Linked DNA regions of Homo sapiens: all the other regions are reported to be linked to region 3. Evidence: microRNA targets listed by miRTarBase, many of them from high-throughput screens and not tested one by one. Region 3 holds a microRNA gene; each other region holds the end of a gene's coding sequence.

Region 1 (5,000 bases), not on the chromosome of region 3:
AAGGTGAATTAGAGGCAAGATTAAGCCACACATGCCGGTATCAATTTTTTTTTTTTTTTGCAAAGCCAGCTGACTGTTCCAGCAGGGGCTTCCTTGTGTAATTATTTTCTTAACTGATGTCAACAACATCTTGCGGTTATTAATTGTTGAGACGTGAAACCTGATTGCCACTAGGTAAAACACAAGGGTTGGCCAAAATGAAATAATCCCTGACATTAGAAACACATGTTCTTAATGAGGTCAGCTCCAGGATCATATGGGGGATAATCCCAGGGACACAAAGTTGTGTCAAACTTGTCTCAGGAATAAAAATATTAGTCTCAAGCCTTTGATAGCACGGTATTAAATATGACATTGTCAGCCTGTAGCTGATCTTGCCCCTGACTGTGAATTGTCCCAGCATGACCTAAAAAGCTGCGTGTGTTTCCTTACAGGTGCCTTTCATTATCTCAAGCCAGATATCGCGTAAGTGAACTGTCCACTTGGAGCTAAAACTGGCCCTGTTTCTGGTCTTCGCAGCCTAGATATGAAGAATCTGCTCTGAAAACAAAAAAAAATTACCCTTTTGTTGGGGGGGGTGGGGCAGTGGTCCCAATAGGAGACAAAGGAGAGTGATTGATTTTCTTCCTCCAATAGTTGGTTTCAAATCCTTTTGAACACGTTCGACAAAAGCAGTGGAGAAGAGGAAGACCTGGAGCAATAAAAGACAAATGCAACATTTTAAGGCAATGGTTTCACATGGTTACATATCAAAACATCCCAATTCTTTAGTGCTGATCATCGAGGAGCTAGAACATTCCATTTGCTTGTGTGCGTGCGTGCGTGTGTGTGTGTGTGTGTGTATTGAGATTTACCCAGACTGGTTTGGGCAAGCAGACTGTTCTAAAATATAATAGAATACCCTAAAGTATAACATGTCGATGTTCGATGCTGATACTTCTACAACTTTAAAACTGCTCATTTCATGAAGCAAGAATGGAGGAATCCTTGACTCTTACACACTGGAAATTGAAATAAAGATAAATGCAACCATTTTTAGGAAGCTAGACTAGCTGTAAAGGACCTCCTAAATAAATTATTTGTTACTGTATCCTCATTTGTAATCTAGTTGTCAATAAATGGCCCGGACATGTCTTGCTAACAGGATATGGGCTACCAGGAAGAAGGACTTGTTTCCCTTTCCTGTGTGGGGAGAGGTGTGTGACGTTTTTCCAGTTCACATTTATTTGGTAGCCCACCTGGGTTGGAGGAAGGGCACGGTGGAGAGAAAGTGACATGCATTCACATATCTGCTTATCAGTGTGCAATACTGTGTACCTCATGGATGCTTTGGCAATGCCCAAGGCGATATAAGCAAAATCAGAAGTATATTTTTGCAGGTGCTTTTATTTTCACAGCCCATAATTCATAGTGATAGAGTGCAGTGATGTTTGCCATTTGCTGGACAACCAACACCCGGGTTGCTCCTTTGATTAGAGACCAGATCAGATAATTATGCTTTTAAACTGATTACGTTTACATTCTTCTCTTTTCTATGAAAGGCAGGGCAAGAACAGAAGTGTTCACATGGCTCTCATGTACTTTTAAATTATACAATGATATCCAATATTAAAAGATTATAGGAACTGAGGTTTACATACGTTTGTGTGGTGACATTTTAGAATGTCAATAAATTTGCTTTTTGAGATGTTGAGAGGAACAAGAAGGTGGAAGGCAGTGTTATTTATTTCTTTCTATTCTTGGAACCACGAATGAGGTAGGCACAAATACATTCCTTTTAGAGTTAAGAACTATGACGTAGCGAGTTAGTGAGACTAGACATAGTACCGAATTTAGTTCATGCATTGGTCTTAGAGGGTGATGGAACAAGAGAAGTACTATCTTTGTGTTGCAGCCTCAACCAACAACAATGTGTTGTAAAAATGTCTTTCATGTAAAAAGTGCAGTAAATATTTACTATTTATAATGAATAAACAGTTATGAAAACTTGCCCACTACTGCTTTTTTGGGGGAACTGGTGAATGTAGTATAAATGAAAACTTGGCAATGGGGAGCCCAATGTACATGAACTTCACTTCTGGTGGACCCTTTCTATGAGAGTATTCTGTCGACAAATAAGGTTACACAACCCACAGTTGTATTCTCTTGAAGAAGCTTGGTTGAACACACTTTTAAGGATTGAAGTTTATGTTTTTATCAGTGTAGCATCTAGAAAAACCCTTCAGTTTAGCTTCCTTCATCTTTCTTTGGTTCTCTCAGAGTTATCCAGTCCCTTTACTGTCACTTAGAGATATGTTTTCCCTGGAGTACCCGGTTCCATCTTCATCTCTAAGTCATCTCCACGGAAATTTTTATTTAAAACTCTCATATTTTATTTATTTTATTTTAGCAGCCTACTTTATTCTTCATGAAAGGTATTACTGCGTACTTCATTCATTCTTCCTTTCTTCCTTCTCCTTCCCTCCCTCTCCTGATCCTTTCTCCTCTCCCTCCCTCCTTCCCTTCTTCCTGAATGTATTTAATGAGAGTCCAAATGTGCCAGGCATGGTGATTGGCACTTGTGTTATAGCGGTGCTTGTAGCCTAGTAGAGAAGGCAGAGAAGTAAATGCATAGTTTCAATAAAGTGTGAGGACTGTTATTTTAGAAGGAATAATCATAATACCTTTTGAAGCTCTTACTTGTATTAACTTATTTATTACTCTCCACATGTCACATGCAGCAAGTGATGTCACTACCATTCCTTTTGTACAGATGAGAAAACTGAGGCTCAAGGAACTTACATGAATCACTCAGTGGCAGAGCTAGGATTTGAACCTAGTACAATCTCAGTGCCCAAGGTGTTTAAACTCATGCTCTTCTGCTTCCTCAAGACTGGTGTGAGAGAACCTTACAGTCAGGAAGATCTAAAAGGGTGCTGTCCAATTCAGAAGCTACTAGCCATGTATCCCTATTTAAATTTAAAGAAACAAAAGTACATAAAATGACAAAATTAGTTCCTAAGTTGCACTAGCCACATTTCAAGTGTGCGATAGTCACACGAGGCCAGAAGCTGCCATACTGGGGATTGTTGCTGTGGGACATTCCACATCACAGGAAAGTTGACTGGTCAGCTGATTGAATGCACGTGAGTTCATAGTTTAACAATATCAAAAACTTGAAATGCAGTGGGTAACATTTTCCAAAGTTGTAAAATGCTTTATTTTTTTTTTTTTAGCTCACACACTTATCTTTCTGATCAAATGTGTTGCTCTTCTTCTGACAATTTTTCCAAAAATAATTTAAGAGGAAAGGAAGTTAATCTTTACAGCACATTTACTTTTATTGTCTTGTTTAATCCTCACAATGTCCCGTAAGGTGGGTGTTATTCACCCAAACTTATAGATGAATGGACTGAGGCCAAAGCTGTTAAGCAGTTGGGCCAACATTACATATAGCCAGAAATGGCAAAAGAAGGCTTTGACTTCTATGCAACCATGTGGCAGAACCTGTTTGTTTTACCCACTTAATTATATCAGTCTATCCTCATGCCAAACTCAAGTTGCAAACAGGCATTTAAAAAAATCATTCACTCCCAATACATGAGAGGAATGCTGCCAGGATTCAGATTACACAAGAGAAACTCATTTTACATGATCAGTTTTCCTTTCTGTCTCCTGATATCAGAACTTGTCATGAATGGCTTATATCTTATTTTGATATACTTCTTTGTGTCCTTTTCTTATTTCTGCATGTCTTTGAAATCTACTTCTCTGCTGTTACTTCTCATGTTGAAAGTCCCTGTAGATCTTTTTTCTCCAGACTCTTAAAATATCTAATCAATTTCTGGGGAAATGTGACCTGATTTCTTTCAGTCAGAGTTCCTACCCTCATTTGCTGGGACAAGCAGCCCTAAGAACTTTGACCCTTTGACATTCAACAGAACTTGAACCTGATTGTATGTGGGGGGTTCCCCCTTGCCCATGTAGTTATTTGATTTCATTTGAAAAATTAAAAGTAAGAGCTGAAAATTAAAACTCAAATTATTAAATTGTGGATGTACCATTGTCAGCTGCTGAGCCATTCCTTGGCAGCAATTTTTCTAGGAATAGATATCATACATTTCACATCTGTGACAGAAACAAGCATATTGTTTTATGCTTTTGATTTAGCCCAGTCTGGAAATGTGTTTTCATACACACTTGGATGCTTGGGAAACATCCTAGGTTAGAAGGGATCTTCATTAGTGCTGGCATATAGAACCAGAGTAAGAGACAAGATCACTGGCTCATGGCTATAAGTTTAGGAAGTCTTAAATGGAGAAGGAGATGGATTCATTAATGCCTTTTATCTGAATATGGCATGGAAGAATCTATCTGAAAACTACATAATTAAGAGTTAAAATTAATACACAGGACCAGAACCAAAGTATCTATAAAAAGGAAATCTATTTACCTGAGCCTCAACCATTCTGAGTGAATGAGTCTTGGTGTTAAGTCATTCATGGATAAGGAAAGCCGGTGTCAAACATGGTGGGCACAGTAAGTGACGAGTGGCAGTATTTGTGCAAAAAGTTCCACATGGCAAGCCTCAGCCTCAGAAAAGTGCTCATGGAGCTGGAAGTCAGTGGTAGATGACGTATGAGAGAAAAGGAAGAAAACAGAGCTGTGTATAGGACTTCTCACCAGATGGCTGTGATATGAGTTAGTTCTCTTTATTCCATAGATCCCCCTTTGGAATTGCTGACCATGGTGTCCCAAGTGCCTAGCACCATGTCTGATCCATTACAGGTACTCAATACATGCCTGTTGAATAAATGAATAAATAAATAGATGAAAAGTGATTTTCTTATACTGTCCCTACATGATCTTCTGAGCAGGGAGACATTTGCATGACCAAAGGTGCACAGATTGCCACCAGGTTAGATTGGTATGAAGTCTTAGGGAAGGAGTGAGAGGCAGCTGGCCTAACAAGTCACTCAAAAGCCATATTTCTGATGATTTTGACTGTAGCAGAGGATACA
Region 2 (5,000 bases), not on the chromosome of region 3:
GACTGGGCAAAGCCTGCCCCAGCTCTTGGTCTCAGAGGAGGGACTCGGGCCTTTGACCACTACTCTGAGCAGCGCAGCCTCCAGGCTTGAGTGGGTCCTGGCTGTTGGCCTGTTGGGTAACAGGTGTTGGGCTGGCTTTCTCTGCTTAAGGAGCTCTGGAGGGGGGCTCTACCTGCTTGTCCTGAATAGTGGCTGCCCCCTCCCTTGGCTCCAGCAGAGCTGGTAGCTAGGCCCCGGGGGCTGCCGGGATTGGGTGTCCCACTGCCCTGGCTTGGTGTCCAGCTGGAGGGGGCAGTGCCAAGGGCCCTGTCTCACCCCAGAGGTGGAGGGGTCTCCCCAGCCTTCCTCACCGGGTGTCCCTGACCGCCCTATCCCCTGCAGGCTCCTGCTTCTGGGTGGCCGTGCTGGATGGCAACGTGGTGGGCATTGTGGCTGCACGGGCCCACGAGGAGGACAACACGGTGGAGCTGCTGCGGATGTCTGTGGACTCACGTTTCCGAGGCAAGGGCATCGCCAAGGCGCTGGGCCGGAAGGTGCTGGAGTTCGCCGTGGTGCACAACTACTCCGCGGTGGTGCTGGGCACGACGGCCGTCAAGGTGGCCGCCCACAAGCTCTACGAGTCGCTGGGCTTCAGACACATGGGCGCCAGTGACCACTACGTGCTGCCGGGCATGACCCTCTCGCTGGCTGAGCGCCTCTTCTTCCAGGTCCGCTACCACCGCTACCGCCTGCAGCTGCGCGAGGAGTGACCGCCGCCGCTCGCCCGCCCGCCCCCCCGGCCGCCCTGTCCGCCTTTGCCCGCCTGCCCGCCGCCCGGCGCGGCCTGCTTTCAGACGCTCAATTGGCGTTTGTGTTGGGTTTCCCCTTTTCAACATCCTGCGGTTGTCTGGCTGGTTCCGGGGGGTGCGGGGCTGTTGTTCTTCGGCGACACTTTGGTGGGGGTGGGTTGTTTGTCGCCATAGCCCCTCGCCCTTCCCCACCTGCCTGGGCGGCTTGCCACCTGAAGAGTGGCATCTTGGACCACCGCGGCTGTCCATGACGCTGCCCTGCCCGCCGCCACTGGGGAAGGCCCAGCCTTGCTCACCAAGCACAGAACCTCTGCAGCAGATCCCGGGGCCAGGCTCCGGCCCCGCCTGCGGCCCCAGCGCCACTGCCTGTGGAGGCCCCAGCTGGCCACGGCGCTGCTTTGCTCCGCGCATGCCGAGGGTGTGGCCCGGCTGAGCATGCCGCATGCACACAGCCCCGCCCTGCCGCCCTGCCCAGACTGGACCCGGAGACCCGGGCTGGTGAGCGCCCCTGTCCCCAGCCCCCAGCTGGCTGTGGGAGGGCCTGCCCCTGCCCCCACCTCCTGGAGGGCCTGGTCTGCCCCGCGCCGCCCGGCTCTGTCCACACCTGCTTTGCTCTGACGCCCTCCATTTCTCTGGCTCCGGCCCCTCCCCTGCCTGGGCTGTGCTGACTGGTGTCATCACCCAGGTGACTCCCATGGCGTCCGTGGCACAGCCAGGGTGGGGGTCCATGGGACCCCTCTCCCCAGTGCCCACTGGATCGTGCTGGCCTCTCCCAGATGTCCCCGGGGACCTCCTGCCTCTGGCTGACGGTCCACCCTGTGAATCTTATCAGCCCAGGCTGCTGCCAACAGCGCCCAGCCCACAGCTTCTCCCAGCCTGAAACCAACACATTTTCTAATAAGTTATTTAGACAGAATAGCACTCTGCATGACTTTAATTCTTGGGACAAAACGGTAGTTTGTACCCTAAGACACAGTTTCTGGCCCAGTGTGATGGGGGTGGGTGGCCGGGTGGGTGGAGCGTTTTGCTGTTGGAAACCTGGAGGGAAACCCTGATTGGATGTCATTTCCTGCCATGGAGCACGCCTCCCAGCCCTGGCCTGCAGTGTGGGCAGGGTGGGGGGCAAGGGAGTCCGCAGCCTCCGGGAGGAGGGGCAGGGCGCTGCCTTGGGCTGGGTGGGAAGAGGGGTGGCCGCCTCGGCTTCCGCTGGCCATGCTCCTGGTCTCTCCTTCCTGAGGTCACAGGCAGGGGCTGCCCTGGACGGGGGGCGGGGGGGGTGGCCTGGAAGGGGAGACAGAGGTGGAGGGTGGCACAGGCTGCACATTCAGCTTAGAAGTGGACCTGGCTTTGGTGGCAGGAGAAGAATAAACACTTGCCCAGACCCCTTTGTGTGGGGGAATTGGGGAGGGGTCGTGGCAGGCAGGGTGGGCCACGGAACTGGGTCCCAGGCATCAAGGCCACGTGCAGGGCCATGGAGGGATGCTTCTCACGAGGCGCTTCAGAAGCGAGCGAAGGGACAGAGAAGCCCTGCGTCCAAGGGCCTTTTGTCCTGTTAGCAATTGAGGTGTGCAGAGCACTGTACAGACCCCACTCCCCTGTACATTCCTCCCTGGAGGTGCCCGGTCCCCGCTTGGGGATGGGAGTTTTGTAGACTGTACAGAAATCGGCACCCTATTTTCTTGCAGCTCAGATTTTGTTAATCTGGAATATACAGACAGACGTAAAGTGTTTTAGCAAAATGGAAACAAACAGTTGTGCCTTTTTCCTCTTTTGGTTTGGTTTGGGTTTGGCCTGGGGCTGGTCCCAGTTGGTGCGGGGCATGCTGGGGGCAGGAGGGGCAGGGCGGGCCAGGTGGAGTCAGGTCTTGGGGGTGTCATGTCGGGGTGCTGCCAGCGTCCCTTGGTCCTGTGCCTTTGGAGCCTCGGGCTCCTGGGGTGCAGGGTGCTTGGGGGTGGCTGTTGGAGCCCACCGACGCCAGGGCAGGGCCTGGAGGCCCAGGGACTGCCAGTGTCTCCTTGATATTGATCCTAGCAGATCCCCCTCCTGGGGGTTCTGAGAGTCCTGGGCAGTGTGGCCTTCTCTCATTCTGGTGGCATCTGCGCCCGTGAGTGACCTCTTCCTTGGCTGCACTGCCCTGTGGGTGGTGAGACGCTTGGCCTTTTTTGTTGCTGCCAGGACTTGGTAGAGATGGCAGGAAGGGTGTGCGGGGTGGTTGTGTGCAGAACCCTGCCGCCCCTGAGGTGAGCAGAGGCACTGGTGTGCCTGCCAGGCTGGGGCGGAGCTGCCCGGAACCCTTGCCAGGCCAATGTGTAGCTTGGTGGCGCCCTTGAAGGCCACTGGGGGGTAGGTGTGTCCTCCCCCGGGGCTGGAGGCCGGGTGCCTGGTGGGTGGGCCTGACCTGGCCCACCTCATCCCTCCAGCCTGGGATCTCACTGCTCTGCACATGTGCACTGACGTGAATTTTATACGTTTGTAGAAACTCTGATGTAACTTCTTCTACCTCTGAAGCGCCCTCCTGGGCCCTGCTGTCACGTGGCTGGTGCGGCTTCCCCGAGTGCTGGCCCCCTGCCCGCTCCCCATGGGCACCCACCACTCAAACTCTGCGTGGTGAGGCCCGGGGAAAGCCAGGCCGGGCCCTAGCACTGCTCAGGGGCCTGGGGCTCCTGGGATTTCTGTGTGTTTGGAAGCCTCTGTTTTTGGAGTGGGGGGCGTGGAAGGCGGGAGGGGCTGACAGTGCCTGGGGCCAGAGCTGGGCGAAGGAGGACATCCTCACTGGACGAGCACTGCAGGCCTGACGAGAGGCTCCGGGCAGCTGAGGGCTGAAGCGCCTCGGGATGCCCCACACTGCCCAGAGCCACGGGTCTTGCTGTGCTGGGGGTGGGGTGGCCCCAGGCAGCTGCCACTGCCCAGGTGTGAGTCGCTGCAGACCTGGTCCCTGAGGGTGGGAGGCCTGCTTGTGCTGAAGCTGCCATGTGGTCTGGCCCCCAGAAGGGCTCCTGAGCGTAGGGAGTTGAGCCCCGCAGCCGTGGCGGCATCTCCTCCTCCTTCCTCCGCCCCATGCCCAGCCTTGCTTCCGGCTGGTGGCATGCCTTGGGGCCGGGCAGCAGGTGAGAAGCTGCCCCCGGAGGGAGGGGCCAAGGGCTGGGTCAGTCTGGCCTGAGGGGTGGATGGCTGGCCCTGGGGGAAGGCTGGGCCTGGGAGGCCCTGTGGACAGCAGGCCTGAGGCCACGAGGTCCTGGGGCCACCCCTCTCCTGCTCTGGGTGTCCTTCTCAGAGAAGATGGCAGAAGGCTGCAGGCCCTAGAGGGGACGACGGGCTGGGGACGCCCTGAGCTTCCTGGCTGTGTGGCAGGTGCTGGGGAAGCTCTCTGGGCCATAGGGACCTGGCTCCCCTCTGAGAGGCCCGCCTGCCCTGGGGCACCCAGGGCTGTGCTGGTGGCCTGAGGCTGGGAACTTGGGTTCCTGGGCTCTGCTGGCGCCTGGGCTTTGTGGGGGCCGAAGGTGGTTGCCCCGCCGGGCAGGGGGCTGTGTGGGCCCTCGTGGGGCCACCTTCCTGTCAGTGCCCGAGGGACGGTGGGACAGTTGCCCCTGCGCCAAGGGAGCCCACTGCCATCCCCCGTGGGCTGGCGCTGCAGTCGCGCACCCTGTGTTGCCTGCTGACTTGCTTATGTCTGTTTGGAAGCTGCTTCTGTTTGGCCACAGGCCTGTGTTCCTGGGCTGATGGCCACAGAGCTGACACTTGGGGTTTGAGTTCCAGACTTGCAGACCCTGGGATCCGCTTACTCCTCCGCGCCACGGCTGCTGTGCTTCCAGAGGTGGCGTGATGCCTCCCGGGGCCATGGTGGGGTGAAGGATGGCGAGCCGGACATACCATTGTTGGATGTATTTTTTTTAAAACAGCAATAATTAGCCATTTTAAAGGAGGGATGTACCTGTGTGTGTGCATGTGCACGTGTTTGAGCGTGTGTGTGTGTGCAAGTGGGTTCTTGGATATGTGTAGTGTGAGCATGTGTGCATGTGTGAGCCTGTGCACGTGCATGTTGTAGGTGCATAAGCATGTACACGCGTGAGCATGCATGTGTGTGTACACGTGTATAGGTGTACATGTGCATGAGTTGTGTACATGCGTGAGCACGTGTATAGATGTACGTGTGTGTGCGCATGTGTGCGTGTACATGTGTTTGTGTCTTGGGTATGCATAAGCATGCACGTG
Region 3 (5,172 bases):
GGCTGGTAGGATCGTGGCTGGAAGAGACTAGGGGCGAGCTGCCCGAGCCCTCGGGGGAGGTGGAGGAAGACTGGCTTTGGAGTGCCTGCGGCAGCGGAAGGGTTAACGTCTGGCTGGAGGGGAGGGGGAGGCGCAGGGATGGGGCTGCGGGGCTTTGAGGGGTCAAGGGTGAGCCGTGCCAGTGGGAGGGGGCCGAGGAGGAGGGGGAGGTTGTCTGGGCTGCCAGACAGGCCAGGGTCAGCGGCGGGGGCAGGAGATGTCTGGAGGAGGAGAGGCCCAGCATCCATGCTCCCTCGGGGACCCGGGATTCCAGGTCCCAGACCCCTCCTCCCTCAGATCTGGGAGTACACCACCCAGTCCCCCACCCATTCCAGAATCCGAGCCCCCAGCCCCCTTTTTTCCAGGATCCAGGAGTCTGAGCCCCCAGTCTGTTCTCTCAGACCAGGGAATCCACACTCCAGCCCCTAACTCCTTCAAAACCCCAGAGTTCAGAACCTCAGCCCCTCTTCCCAAGGAGCGCGGCCCCCAACCCTCTGTTCCTCTAGAACCCAAGCGTTCAGGCTCCGGCATCTTTCTCCCTTTGAAGCCTGCAGTTCTGGGGATCCCCAGGCCCCTCCTCCTCCGGAACCCAGGAGTCCCCACCTCCTCTTTAGCCCCAGCTGGAGTCCAGCCCTCCAGGGGTTAAGGGGGCGGGACCAGCTAGTTGCCATGGTGCCAGACTGTTTGGGTCTGCTCTCTGACCCTTGGGGGCTCCCCAGGGTCCGCAGAGAGGGGGAGGGGGACCTAGGCCTGGGGGAAGTCCAGAGCCTACCCCTTCCCCAAAGCGGGGCTATGGGCCCAGGGAGTTCGCGTTTCCACCAACGCCTTGTCCAGTGACCTTGAACAAGTCCTGACCCTTCTCTCTCCGCCTCAGTTTCCCCAAGGAGACACTGGTTGGCGGGTGGGGGAGATGCTTAGGTCCGGGGAATCTCTGAGATTCTCGGCTTCCCCTCTCCCCTCACCCTCCTCCTCAGGCCCCAGGCAGCCCCGGGGCATGCTGGGAACCCAGGCCTGGGCTCCGGGCCAGGTTGGTGTGGGGGGGTGGGGGCGGGGGCAGCCTCCTCCCTTCCCCTTCCTCCCCACCTTGGCCTGACTCTCGCCCCCGCCTGAGGGTCTGGGAGGTTGGGAAGGAGGGAAGGGGGAAGAGAGCTGGCCGTAGACCCGTCTCCGGCCCCCGCCTCCCCCTTTCCTCCTCCGCCCCTTTCCCGCCTCTCCTCCCCCTCCTCAGGTCGCTACCCCAGCCCTGGGCCCCTTCTCAAACCACCCCCACCCCACCCCCAGCTCCAGACCTGGCTCGAGCTGCGAGGGGGAGGGAGAGAGGGAAGGAGAAAAGAGAGAGAGAGAAGGGAGGGAGACCCAAAGAGAGAAGGGGGAGGGGAGGAAAGAGAGAGACCTAAGAGGGAGGGAAGGAGAGAGAGAGGGAGAGAGACAGAGACTGAGAGAGAGCAGGAGACGGAGGTGAGGGATGGAGAGAGGGAAGGGGCGGAGGGAGAGGAAGTGAGGAAAGACATCCGAAAAAAGGGGGTGGAGAAGGGTGAGAAAGAGGAGAGAGACTGAGAGAGGGCCAGAGAGAGAATGAGAGAGACAAAGAGGGGGAAGGGGGAGAAGGGGAGGATGAAAGACAGAAGGTAGAGGAAAAGCAGGAGAAAGAGGGGGAGAGAAGGAAGAAAACAGAAGCGGGGAGAGGAGAGAGGCGATGGGCAGAGAGAGAAGCCAGCGCAGAGCCAGGGAGGGATGTCCTGATGCAGGAGGAGGCTGGGAACCAGGGAAGGTGGAAAGAAAGAGGGAGAGAGAAAAAGGCAGGGCCAGAGAGACCTGGACTGCGAGAAAGGAACCGGAAGGTGCGCCTGGAGCAGGGGCAGCGAGAACCAGACAGTCCAGGAGGAGGGGCTGGGCACGGGAGAGACCCCAGCTGGAGGGGCTCAGAGCCCAGGGGTGGGGAGGGTGGGTGCTGGGTCCCGGGGTCCAGAAGCTGGAGAAGGCTGGGGACACCTCCTGGATTCAAGAGGGAGGACAGAGATGGGGCTGGGCAGACTTTGGGAGCCTCTTCCCCTCTCTGAGGCTCAGCCCCCTCACCTGCCAAATGGGGATGCTGAGGGCACCTCGCTCTCTGGAGTGGGAGGTGTCAGGGAGAGGACTGGTGCTCAGGGCCTGGTATGGGGTCAGCGCTGGGAGATTGTGGCTGTCATAGTTGTAAATGACCCAAAGAAGGGAGGAGAGAGGAAAGAAAGCACCTAGGGAGGCTCTGATGGTTGGCTAGCCCCTGGCCTCCTTAGCCCTGGGCCTGGAGTCTCTGCAGACTGACAGGAGGGTAGGTAGGAAGCAGGTGTGCCCAAAGGGCCAAATTACGAGACAAATGAGGTTCCCTCCCAGCCGGCACCCAGGAAGCCAGGTTTTCTATCAGGCCATGCCTTCCCCAGGAGGCCTGCCTGGCCGGAGGGAGGAGGGGCTGGGGGCAGGGACTCCTGGGTCTCTGGGGAGAAGGAGGCTTTGGATCTGGACTCATGAGTCTGAGGGAGGAAGGGGCTGAGTCCTTGGATTCCAGGAACATTTGGGGAGAAAAGGGCCAGAGGCCTGGATTCCTGGGTCTGTGGTGAGGAAGGGCCTAGACTTCTGGGTTCTTTAGGGAGGAGGGGGATGAGAGCCTTGACTCCAGGGTCCCTGATGAGGAAGGGGCTGAGGGCCTGGACTCCTGGGTTCCTTGGGGAGGAGGGGCCGGGGGCCCGGACTCCTGGGTCCTGGCACCCACCCGTAGAACCGACCTTGCGGGGCCTTCGCCGCACACAAGCTCGTGTCTGTGGGTCCGTGTCGGGGGCTCACCATCGCGGCTGGGGCCTCCCCGGCCCTCCCCCTCATCCCTGGTCCTCCTGGTCCCTGTCTGTCTGTCTGTCGGGTCTGTCCACCTGCCGCGCCCCCCGGGCTGAGGTAGGAGGTTGTATAGTTGAGGAGGACACCCAAGGAGATCACTATACGGCCTCCTAGCTTTCCCCAGGCTGCGCCCTGCACGGGACGGGGCCCGGCGGGGACCCCCAGCCCCACTCAGGGACCCTTAGCCCCACTGGGCTGCCCCAGGGACCCTGGGAGGAAGAGCCGGGCTCTTTTCTGTCCTTGTCCCTGCATCCCCTCCTTCCCCTGAAATCTGTTTTCCTTCCCTGTCTGTCTCCATCTCTGCTGTGTCTCTGTGGCTTCTGTGTCTCTTTCACAGTGGATCCTCTGACTCCCTCTTATTCTGGCTTTCTAGGTCTCTGCCCCTCCCGATATCTCTCTGTGTCTCTATTTCTGTCGTTTTTGGTCTTTCTGTCTCTGGCTCTCAGAATGTCTCTGTGCCTATCTCCATCTCTGACCCCCACCCCAGGGTCTACCGGGCCACCGCACACCATGTTGCCAGTCTCTAGGTCCCTGAGACCCTTTAACCTGTGAGGACATCCAGGGTCACAGGTGAGGTTCTTGGGAGCCTGGCGTCTGGCCCAACCACACACCTGGGGAATTGCTGGCCTGACTTCTGACCCCTGACTCCTCATACCCTTCCTCCAGAGCATGACATTTGACCACCAACTGAAACCTGACCTCTGACCCCAGACCACTGGCCCTTCCCCCGCCCTGTGGTGACTTCATAAAGGTTACTAGCTTCTCCCCTGGCCTTGAGACCCACACGATGGCCCTGCTGGCTCTGGCCAGTGCCGTCCCGTCTGCCCTGCTGGCCCTGGCTGTCTTCAGGGTGCCCGCCTGGGCCTGTCTCCTCTGCTTCACAACCTACTCTGAGCGCCTCCGCATCTGCCAGATGTTTGTTGGGATGCGGAGCCCCAAGCTTGAAGAGTGTGAGGAGGCCTTCACGGCCGCCTTCCAGGGCCTCTCTGACACCGAAATCAGTGAGGAGACCATCCACACTTCATCAGTGTCCTGGGGAAGGTGCAGAGGGAGGGCAGGAGAGGCCCAGAGGGTCAGGCTGAGGGACAGACAGAGAGAAACAGTCAGAGGAGAAAGGCTCAAAGACCATGAGAACAACAGAGACTTAGGGACAGAGAGACACAGACAGGGGAAGACAGCAGGGCAAAGACTCAGAGAGGGGAGGATGGAGAGTCAGAGAGGGGAAGATGGAGACTCAGAGAGGGGGAGGATGGAGACTCAGAGAGAGAGGAAGATGGAGACTCGGAAAGATGGAGACTCAGGAGTATGGAGAGTCAGAGAGGGGAGGATGGACACTCGGGAGGATGGAGAGTCAGGAGGATGGAGACTCATAGAAAGGGGAGGATGGAGAGTCAGGAGAGGTTGGAGACTGGAGAGGGAATAGAGACCCAGAGAGGGGAGGATGGAGACTCAGAGGGTGGAAGATGGAGACTCAAAGAGGATGGAAACCCAGAGAGAGGAGGACAGAGATGAGGCAGAGACTAGGGGAAGCAGGATAGCGACTGGTCGGGGGCAGAGACTCAGGGAGGATAGAGACTTGGGAGGGACTCAGGAAGCATAGCGACTGTGGGGCAAAGAGTCAGAGAGGGGAGGATACAGACTTGGGAGGGCAGAGACTCAGAAACAGAATGTTCGCATTAGGGACATGGTGTTGCGGGGAGCTGCCTCCCCCAGCCCCTGCTCCCTCCCTCACCGCCAGACTATGATGAGAGAAGCCACCTGCATGACACCTTCACCCAGATGACCCATGCCCTGCAGGAGCTGGCTGCTGCCCAGGGTGAGTGTGTGGGGATGGGGAGATGGGAGATGTGGACTTGGAGCCCCTAAGAAATGGGTATGTGGGAGGGCCCAGGGCAGAGGAAGGAGGCCCCCAGAGTTGGGCAGTGATCCGGGAGGGGAAAGCTGGGAAGACATTGAGCTCAGCTACTTGTCCAAACGAAGGCTGAAGGCAGCTCTAAGAGCCAGGGGCTGAAGGTGGTGAGGGGGAAGGGACGCTGCAGAAATTGCCTAGAGCTGGAAGTCCAGATGGGGTCGGGTAGGCATAGGTTCTGCCATGGCTGCATGGCTCACACTCTTACTGGCTATGAAGTTCTGGGTGTGTCACTGCCCCTCTCCTGGCCTCAACTTACCCATCTGTAAAGTGGGACAATCTTCTTGCCTCCTAGGATGGCCATGGAGCTCAGTGCAGGGGTTGGGGCTGCCTGATGAGCCTGATCTTAGGGAAGG

What was found. The annotated mature microRNA hsa-let-7e-5p reads UGAGGUAGGAGGUUGUAUAGUU and lies in region 3 at 2,961-2,982, shown strand. An mRNA with a match to its seed (bases 2 to 7 or 8) in the 3' UTR can be bound and repressed. Matches are read on the target gene's strand: a 7mer-m8 pairs with bases 2 to 8, a 7mer-A1 pairs with bases 2 to 7 and ends in A, and an 8mer does both.
Region 1: miRTarBase lists PAX3 as a target of hsa-let-7e-5p. Seed matches in the 3' UTR shown: 7mer-A1 at 1,315-1,321.
Region 2: the mRNA of NAT8L is a reported target of hsa-let-7e-5p. Seed matches in the 3' UTR shown: 7mer-m8 at 3,285-3,291.

Annotation. Positions count from the first base shown.
Region 1 is chr2:222,196,877-222,201,876 of GRCh38, reverse strand. PAX3 (paired box 3) reads left to right here. Exons shown (of 9, transcript NM_181458.4): 9 at 435-1,990. The coding sequence ends at 469. Among named protein-coding and RNA genes, the nearest start is that of CCDC140, 99 kb to the left of the region's middle.
Region 2 is chr4:2,063,379-2,068,378 of GRCh38, forward strand. NAT8L (N-acetyltransferase 8 like) reads left to right here. Exons shown (of 3, transcript NM_178557.4): 3 at 382-5,000. The coding sequence ends at 749. Among named protein-coding and RNA genes, the nearest start is that of NAT8L, 6.6 kb to the left of the region's middle. RefSeq lists an enhancer at 3,154-3,767.
Region 3 is chr19:51,689,833-51,695,004 of GRCh38, forward strand. MIRLET7E (microRNA let-7e) reads left to right here and starts at 2,954; the gene lies at 2,954-3,032. SPACA6 (sperm acrosome associated 6) reads left to right here and starts at 3,498. Exons shown (of 9, transcript NM_001316972.2): 1 at 3,498-3,908; 2 at 4,646-4,723. The coding sequence starts at 3,695. SPACA6-AS1 (SPACA6 antisense RNA 1) reads right to left here and starts at 3,624. Exons shown (of 2, transcript NR_108100.1): 1 at 2,802-3,624. MIR99B (microRNA 99b) reads left to right here and starts at 2,780; the gene lies at 2,780-2,849. It also overlaps MIR125A. RefSeq lists enhancers at 156-963, 500-599, 964-1,773.